Homo sapiens: one gene and its partner. The protein of the gene in region 1 purifies or fractionates together with the protein of each later gene. This does not show direct contact. Each region holds a gene or a part of one and is shown on either strand. Other genes may lie near its edges.

Region 1 (3,154 bases):
TGAGGCTTAGCTTTGGCAAGGTGATTTGCTGCACTCTAATAATCTATGGAGCAATGCAAAAGAAATACACGATTATCTTTTTTTTTGATGCAGCGAAGCAAAGTTTTACCTAGAAGTCAAGTCATGACCAAGAGGTTCATAAGACTAATAAAAATGGACAGGAGGTATTTGTACGCTGATATTTCTTCCATAGTACACTTGGAAACTTTTATAAACATATATATTTTCAGGTAAGCCTGTATGCTTGTTATATTTAGTATTTTGCATATGGCCCATTTCCCTCTCCCCTCGGTGGATACCTGCATTATTAATAGGTTATCAACATTAACATTTTCCAAAGCTTGCAGAATACCAATTTGTGAGGAGAAGGTCACCAAATTCTGCTATGATTTAGCCATACCAAAGTGATCACTCACAGTACCAGAAACTTTGTTTTTTCTCTACATGAAGCCAAGACAATTGCCCTCCAACACAGTGGGTCTTCAAGTACAAAGACTAAATTAAAATCTGCTTACAAAGTTTATTTTTAAAGTAATTTAAAACACAGTGTAACCATACATTAAAAATATTGTGGCAATTTAGATTAGGAATAAACATGAGGTTATTTACATGTTGGCATATGTATGTGTGTATATATACACAAAGTGCAGATAAATACAGAACACTACAAAATAAACAAAAAATTCAATGATAATTTATGGACAATCACTTTTATATTTATTACTTAATTTGTCATGTTAATGACTGCAAAGAAGCTCCTAGTACTGAAATATAATATCTTAACATCCGACTTTTATATAAACTACAGTACCTCAAATTTTAACAGTATATAAATAGGGTTCTGAATTAAAAACCCAGGTGTCTTCCCTGCCAAATTCCCTATTTGTTAAGGTTTCAGCTCAGAAATCAAGAAGGACTCTGAAAATCCCAACCTTTGATATGTGGTGGTATATTGGATTTTAAGCATCAATCATGTGCAGACAGTGTTCTTAGACCAGTTCCTGTGGGGATCGTTCTCTGCAAAAAGGAGGCAGTTGAGGGTACACGGGCAGATATAAAGCCTCAAAAATGCTGCCATATAGAGATTAAAAGTGTGCATTTTATATATATATATGTATATGCTGCCATATAGAGATTAAAGGTGTGCATTTTTATATAAAATGCATCTTTATATAAAATGCACATTTTTAATTTATAAGACTGAGTAAATTCAAGGCAAAATTGAGTTGTTGTCAACTCTGGATGCAAAAACACCATGGGAAACACTCATGAAAGATGGCAGATGGTCCAAAGGGGAGAAAGGGGTTATCCTACTGAGGAGGTTTTGACACCTTCAGCCCCTGCCTCCTCCAACACTTAAGTTTCCCAAATAGCCGTGTACACAGGCATCTTGAATGGTGGAGAATATTTATGATGGCAGTAAATGAAAATGGTCTCTGGTTTTTGGGACTCTTCAGTAAGCACACAGACTCCATTTCTCCATAGAGCACCAAGAAAAATCCACACTGAACTTGGCATCTCTCTCATGAGTGCCAAGGGGAAAAGGAATGATGGGCTGGGCCCCCTAAACCACAGACACCTTGTAATCATTGGTCTAGGACATGCAGATCAATTTTCTGCCAATGGCTTACTGTGAATGTTGTCAACATTCTTATGTAAGATTCTTTATTTAAAACAGTGAGGGCAGCTGCCCTCAAAAAATAAAAAATCCAATTTATTGATTTGATCCTCTAAAAGTCCACATCATTCATAAACCTGCATTTTCCCAACGTTATTACCAAGTGGAACTGGCACATTTTGAAGCAGGGGGATAACGGTGACAATGAGGGATACAGTGAATGTGTTCAGGAAATTGAGACCAGTTGATGAATACTCGATATTACATCTGCGAATCAACAGGAGACAGGCAGGACACAGAATGTTCAGAAAACTATCTTTGTTTCTTAAAAGTGTCTTGATTTTGGAAGGTAACAAAAAAGGGTAGGAGGCAAAGTTAAATAGCAATGTGTACCCTAAGGGGAAACCTTTAGTCAAGGGGAAAGTAACTTCTGGACAATAGTCAAGCCTGTGTTCTTTTTCGTGACCTGACCAGGAGATGTGATTTCCGGGTCCTACGCAGTGATGTGAGGTCATGCTAACAGCTGTGAGTTACAAATGTATCATAAAAGCAAAGAACAAAATCTGTTCCCTAAATTGGTCTGCCTCTGACTTTAGTCAAAGTATAAGTCTAGTTGGGGTTCTAAATGCTAAAGAAGGCATCCTGAATACATGATTTAAGGTATCACTACAATTTGAAATTGCTTGAGGCAAAGCTCTGAGGGACTCTTCTAAACTGAAACCACATGAATGATACCCTTTTCAACACAGACCAGAAGAACGGTGCTAGGAGTGAGAAGGTGAGCAGGGTACACTGGATGATAGTGAGAAATCTGTTTGCCTCACAACATAGTGAATTTTTATGAAGGATGCCACATTATATAAAGCTAATTATCATCGAATAATAATAAAAGTCATATGTATCTTTATTTTTCCTACTTGGAAACCTAGATAATTTGGGGTTTTAATACATTTTTTTTCCTTCACTATCTCTGAAAAGAGTCAGCAGACAAATCATTGTTGAGAAACCTGGTTGTGTTCATGCAAGTTACAAAGCACAGGGAACCCATGCAACAAGCAAAACCACTCACATCAAACAAGGAGAAACCCACTTCCTCATACTTCGTGAATGTTACAGGAATACACAGATGATTTTACTGTTCAGACATTTACACATAACACAACAGAAAAATCCTTCAGTTGACTAGTTTCCATAAACTTGGTAGCATTACGGCAAAACAAGAGAGTCATCTGTGAAACACACAAATGTTTTGTACTGAGGGATATTTTCACATAACTCAGGAGATAAGGAACTTAAATTTAGACCCCCTCAATCTCATCATCATACTGATTATACCGTAAGCAGTTATTAGGGTGCAGAGGTTGCGTGTTTTGAAGATATGGATGTGGCAATTCTAATGTATCTTCACATTGTTCCTGAAAAGCTAAGGTTTTGTTATTGAACTACTATTAAAAGTTGAATGTGATCCTCTTTCAATGTCTGGCATTGCCTTCCTGTGGAATTAACATTCTGTGTGATTTAGAGTACATGTCCTGA
Region 2 (3,500 bases), on another chromosome or scaffold:
ATCAGGTGATCTCTGCTTTTAATATACATGGTTTAATTGATTATCAGAATAATAGCAGCATATTCTTAGTTTCATAATTAACATACTTATCATTTATTGTATACTTATAGGCATCAGTGATAATATGAGCCTGACATTGTTGAAAGTAGAGGCCAGAAGTAATGAATATAAACCGTATAGTTCATTCATAAATTCAGGATGTATAATTGGTAATAAAGTTATACATTTTTTTTATGGGCCAGGCGTGGTGGCTCATGCCTGTATCCCAGGACTTTGGGAGGCCAGGGTGGGTGGATCACTTGAGGTCAGGAGTTTGAGACCAGCCTGGCCAACATGGTGAAACACTGTCTCTACTAAAAATACAAAAATTAGCTGGGCGTGATGGTGCATACTTGTAATCCCAGCTACTGCACAACAGAATGAGACTCTGTCTCAAAAAAAAAAAAAAAAAAAAAAAAAAAAGGTTTTTCTCCCATTCCTTCGATTGGAGTGTTGGGCCTTCTAAAGCAAGGAGCTTCTTTGGCAGTGACAGTTTTTTGTTTTTTGCTTTTTGTGTTTTTTTGAGACGGAGTCTCACACTGTTGCCCAGGCTGGACTGCAGTGGCGCGATCTCGGCTCACTGCAAACTCTGCCTCCTGGGTTCACGCCTTTCTCCTGCCTCAGCCTCCCGAGTAGCTGGGGCTACAGGCGCCCGCCACCACGCCCGGCTAATTTTTTGTATTTTTAGTAGAGACGGGGTTTCACCGTGTTAGCCAGGATGGTCTCGATCTCCTGACCTCATGATCTGCCCGCCTCGGCGTCCCAAAGTGCTGGGTTGGCAGTGACAGTTTTAATGCTTGTAGGGATGAAATAAATTACAAATCTAACTTAAAATATTATCATGACAAAGTATTAACAGCCGTTGGAGCTTAACATAATGTGTCTTGAGCTTCTAGTCCCATGTCAGAACCTAGAATACATATTTCTCTACAATTGAGAAGGGTCTTGCTAGGTGTTTAGAACACAAATGGTATTAGTAACACAGTTTTAGGTTAACCTGACACGGTTAAAGATTATTCTCTGCAAAGCTGCTGGGCTTGTAAATACAATTTCTTGAGAGAGGAATAAGAAATTGAGTTGATAAGTTTTCAAGAAGAGAATTGATTGAAATATTATACCTCATTGGTGTTATCTTTATAAATTTTTATGCAGCCATTGCCGAAATCTAAAAAAACTTGTAGCAAAGGCAGTAAAAAGGAACGGAACAGTTCTGGAATGGCAAGGAAGGCTAAGCGAACCAAATGTCCTGAAATTCTGTCAGATGAATCTAGTAGTGATGAAGATGAAAAGAAAAACAAGGAAGAGTCTTCAGATGATGAAGATAAAGAAAGTGAAGAGGAGGTAAAATATTTTACTATATTTTTAAATCATTTCTTTCCATGGGGAGAGTTAAATATTTCTGCTATAAGGTACAGCCAGAAAACACTTCCTTATTGGTTGTTTTTAATTCTGAAGATGCAGAAATGATTAAGTATGAACCCATTTCTTTTCCTTAAAGAGCTTTTAGTTTCATTACCATGTCAGAGTATGAGTCAGAAAAGAGTGAGGTTGGTGTGGACTGGATTTGAAGTGGGCCTTGAGCTGGACGTTGAAGACTAGAGTAGATAAATGGGAAGGGAAGCGGAAGTGGTGCATATCCTGAATAGGACCACATAGGAGCAGATTCTTCGAGGATTTTTTTCGTAATATATTGATACTTTATAATTGACTTGGATCATTTTATTTTACGGAAAAAGCAAGGGACTTAAGGGCCTTTTTCCCCCCCTCAACCTTTAGGGGACTATGTAGTGAGAATAAACAGCATTTGAAGTTTATATAATGAGTGGATAAATTTTGTATTACCTGTCATTTTCTTTTATTTGGGAGTATTTGTAAAAGTTGAGACTCTTAGTTTCCAAAGTGAAACTTCATGAAGAAGAGAACTGCTGAAGCAGTTAAATAAGAGGGTTAACCTCTTCAGTCAGGTAGATCATGGAGAGTGGGTACAGGAGATGGGTTTCTATTATTGTTAATGATGTTTTGGTAGACTGTATTTTAACTTTGATGTTTTCGTTCAAAGGTTGGAACTTGCTCTATAGATTGGGTAATCAACCTTGCCTTATTTAGGGACTTGGATAATGTCAACTTGACATTTTGGACCAGATGATTCTTAATTGTGGGTGATATTCCCAAGCTCCCCTTGTGACAACCAAAAATGTTCTTCAGACATTGTCAAATGTCCCTGGGGCGAGACAAGGAGGGAATCATCTCCACTGAATTAGAAGGAATAAAGATATAGTGAACTCTGGTATTATATGATATGTGTGGGTGTTTAGTATGTATGTTTGTCTTGAGTTATTTACAATTCATGCTTGTTTTAGCGTCAAATTTTATAAAGACTTCTATAAAGCTAAGTATGAAATGCTTCATCATTTAAGAAAGAGGGTTACGAATCTAGTAGGTGCTTCATAAATATCTTAATATATATTTGGCACAAAGGAAAATAAGTAATCTGAGCATTAAGGTCTTTATGGATTGGATATCCGGGAGGAAAACATGTTTGTTTGTATGTATATATATAACAGTGGAAATTTTTAAACTGATAGTATCTTCATTCAGGAAATATTTGGTGTCTACTGTGTGCCATTCAGATTCCTAAACTCTCTTTATGGGCAGAGTTAAAGCACGAAACATTATCATAGAATATAAATGTCTAATTTTTTCATAGAGACGTTAGCATGGGCTCTGGAAACTGAGTTCAAATCTGACCTCTATATTGGATTATTACTGTATTAGTATAAGCAAGTTATTTAAACTATACCTCAGTTTCCCATCTGTAAAATGGGGAGTGATAATAGTATTAGCCTCATAGGGTCATATTAAAGGATTTTATTTAAAATACTTAGAGCGGTGCCTGGTGCATATAGTATGTAAGTATTAGTTGCTATTATTATTAGAATTAAAATGATGTTTTATGACAAGTAAAACTTCTAAATCGAATCTTCTTGTCATTACTAGGTGCAGGTTAAAAAGTGAGGGCAGGCCGGGCATGGTGACCCATGCCTGTAATCCCAGCACTTTGGGAGGCCGAGGTGGGTGGATCACCTGAGGTCAGGAGTTCGAGACCAGCCTCACCAACATGGTGAAACCCTGCCTCTACTAAAAATACAAAATTAGCTGGGCGTGGTGGTGCATGCCGATAATCCCAGCTACTCGGGAAGGCTGAGGCAGGAGAATTGCTTGAACCGGGGAGGCAGAGGTTGCAGTGAGCTGAGATCGCACCATTGTTCTCCAGCCTGAGCAACGAGCGAAACTCCGTCTCAAAAAAAAAAAACGAGAGCATTTTATACTCACTTTTAAAATTCGCTTTCTAAATTGTTGTCCCATAGTTCTGTAGAGGTAGTTGAACTTGGTGTATGCAGATGATACCTGATTTATACCCATATTGGTTCCAGGATAATAATCACAAGTGGAACCATCTC

The links. Proteins that work in one complex are often made in the same cells at the same time.
Region 2: the proteins of ARHGAP42 (region 1) and DEK purify together in Homo sapiens (affinity purification with mass spectrometry; one large-scale study listed by BioGRID and IntAct). This does not show direct contact.

Annotation. Positions count from the first base shown.
Region 1 is NC_000011.10:100,991,288-100,994,441, reverse strand, and holds the end of ARHGAP42 (rho GTPase-activating protein 42), read right to left. Parts: 3' UTR 501-3,154; downstream 1-500. UniProt on the Homo sapiens protein: May influence blood pressure by functioning as a GTPase-activating protein for RHOA in vascular smooth muscle.
Region 2 is NC_000006.12:18,247,531-18,251,030, reverse strand, and holds part of DEK (protein DEK), read left to right. Parts: intron 1-1,191; coding exon 1,192-1,380; intron 1,381-3,500. UniProt on the Homo sapiens protein: Involved in chromatin organization.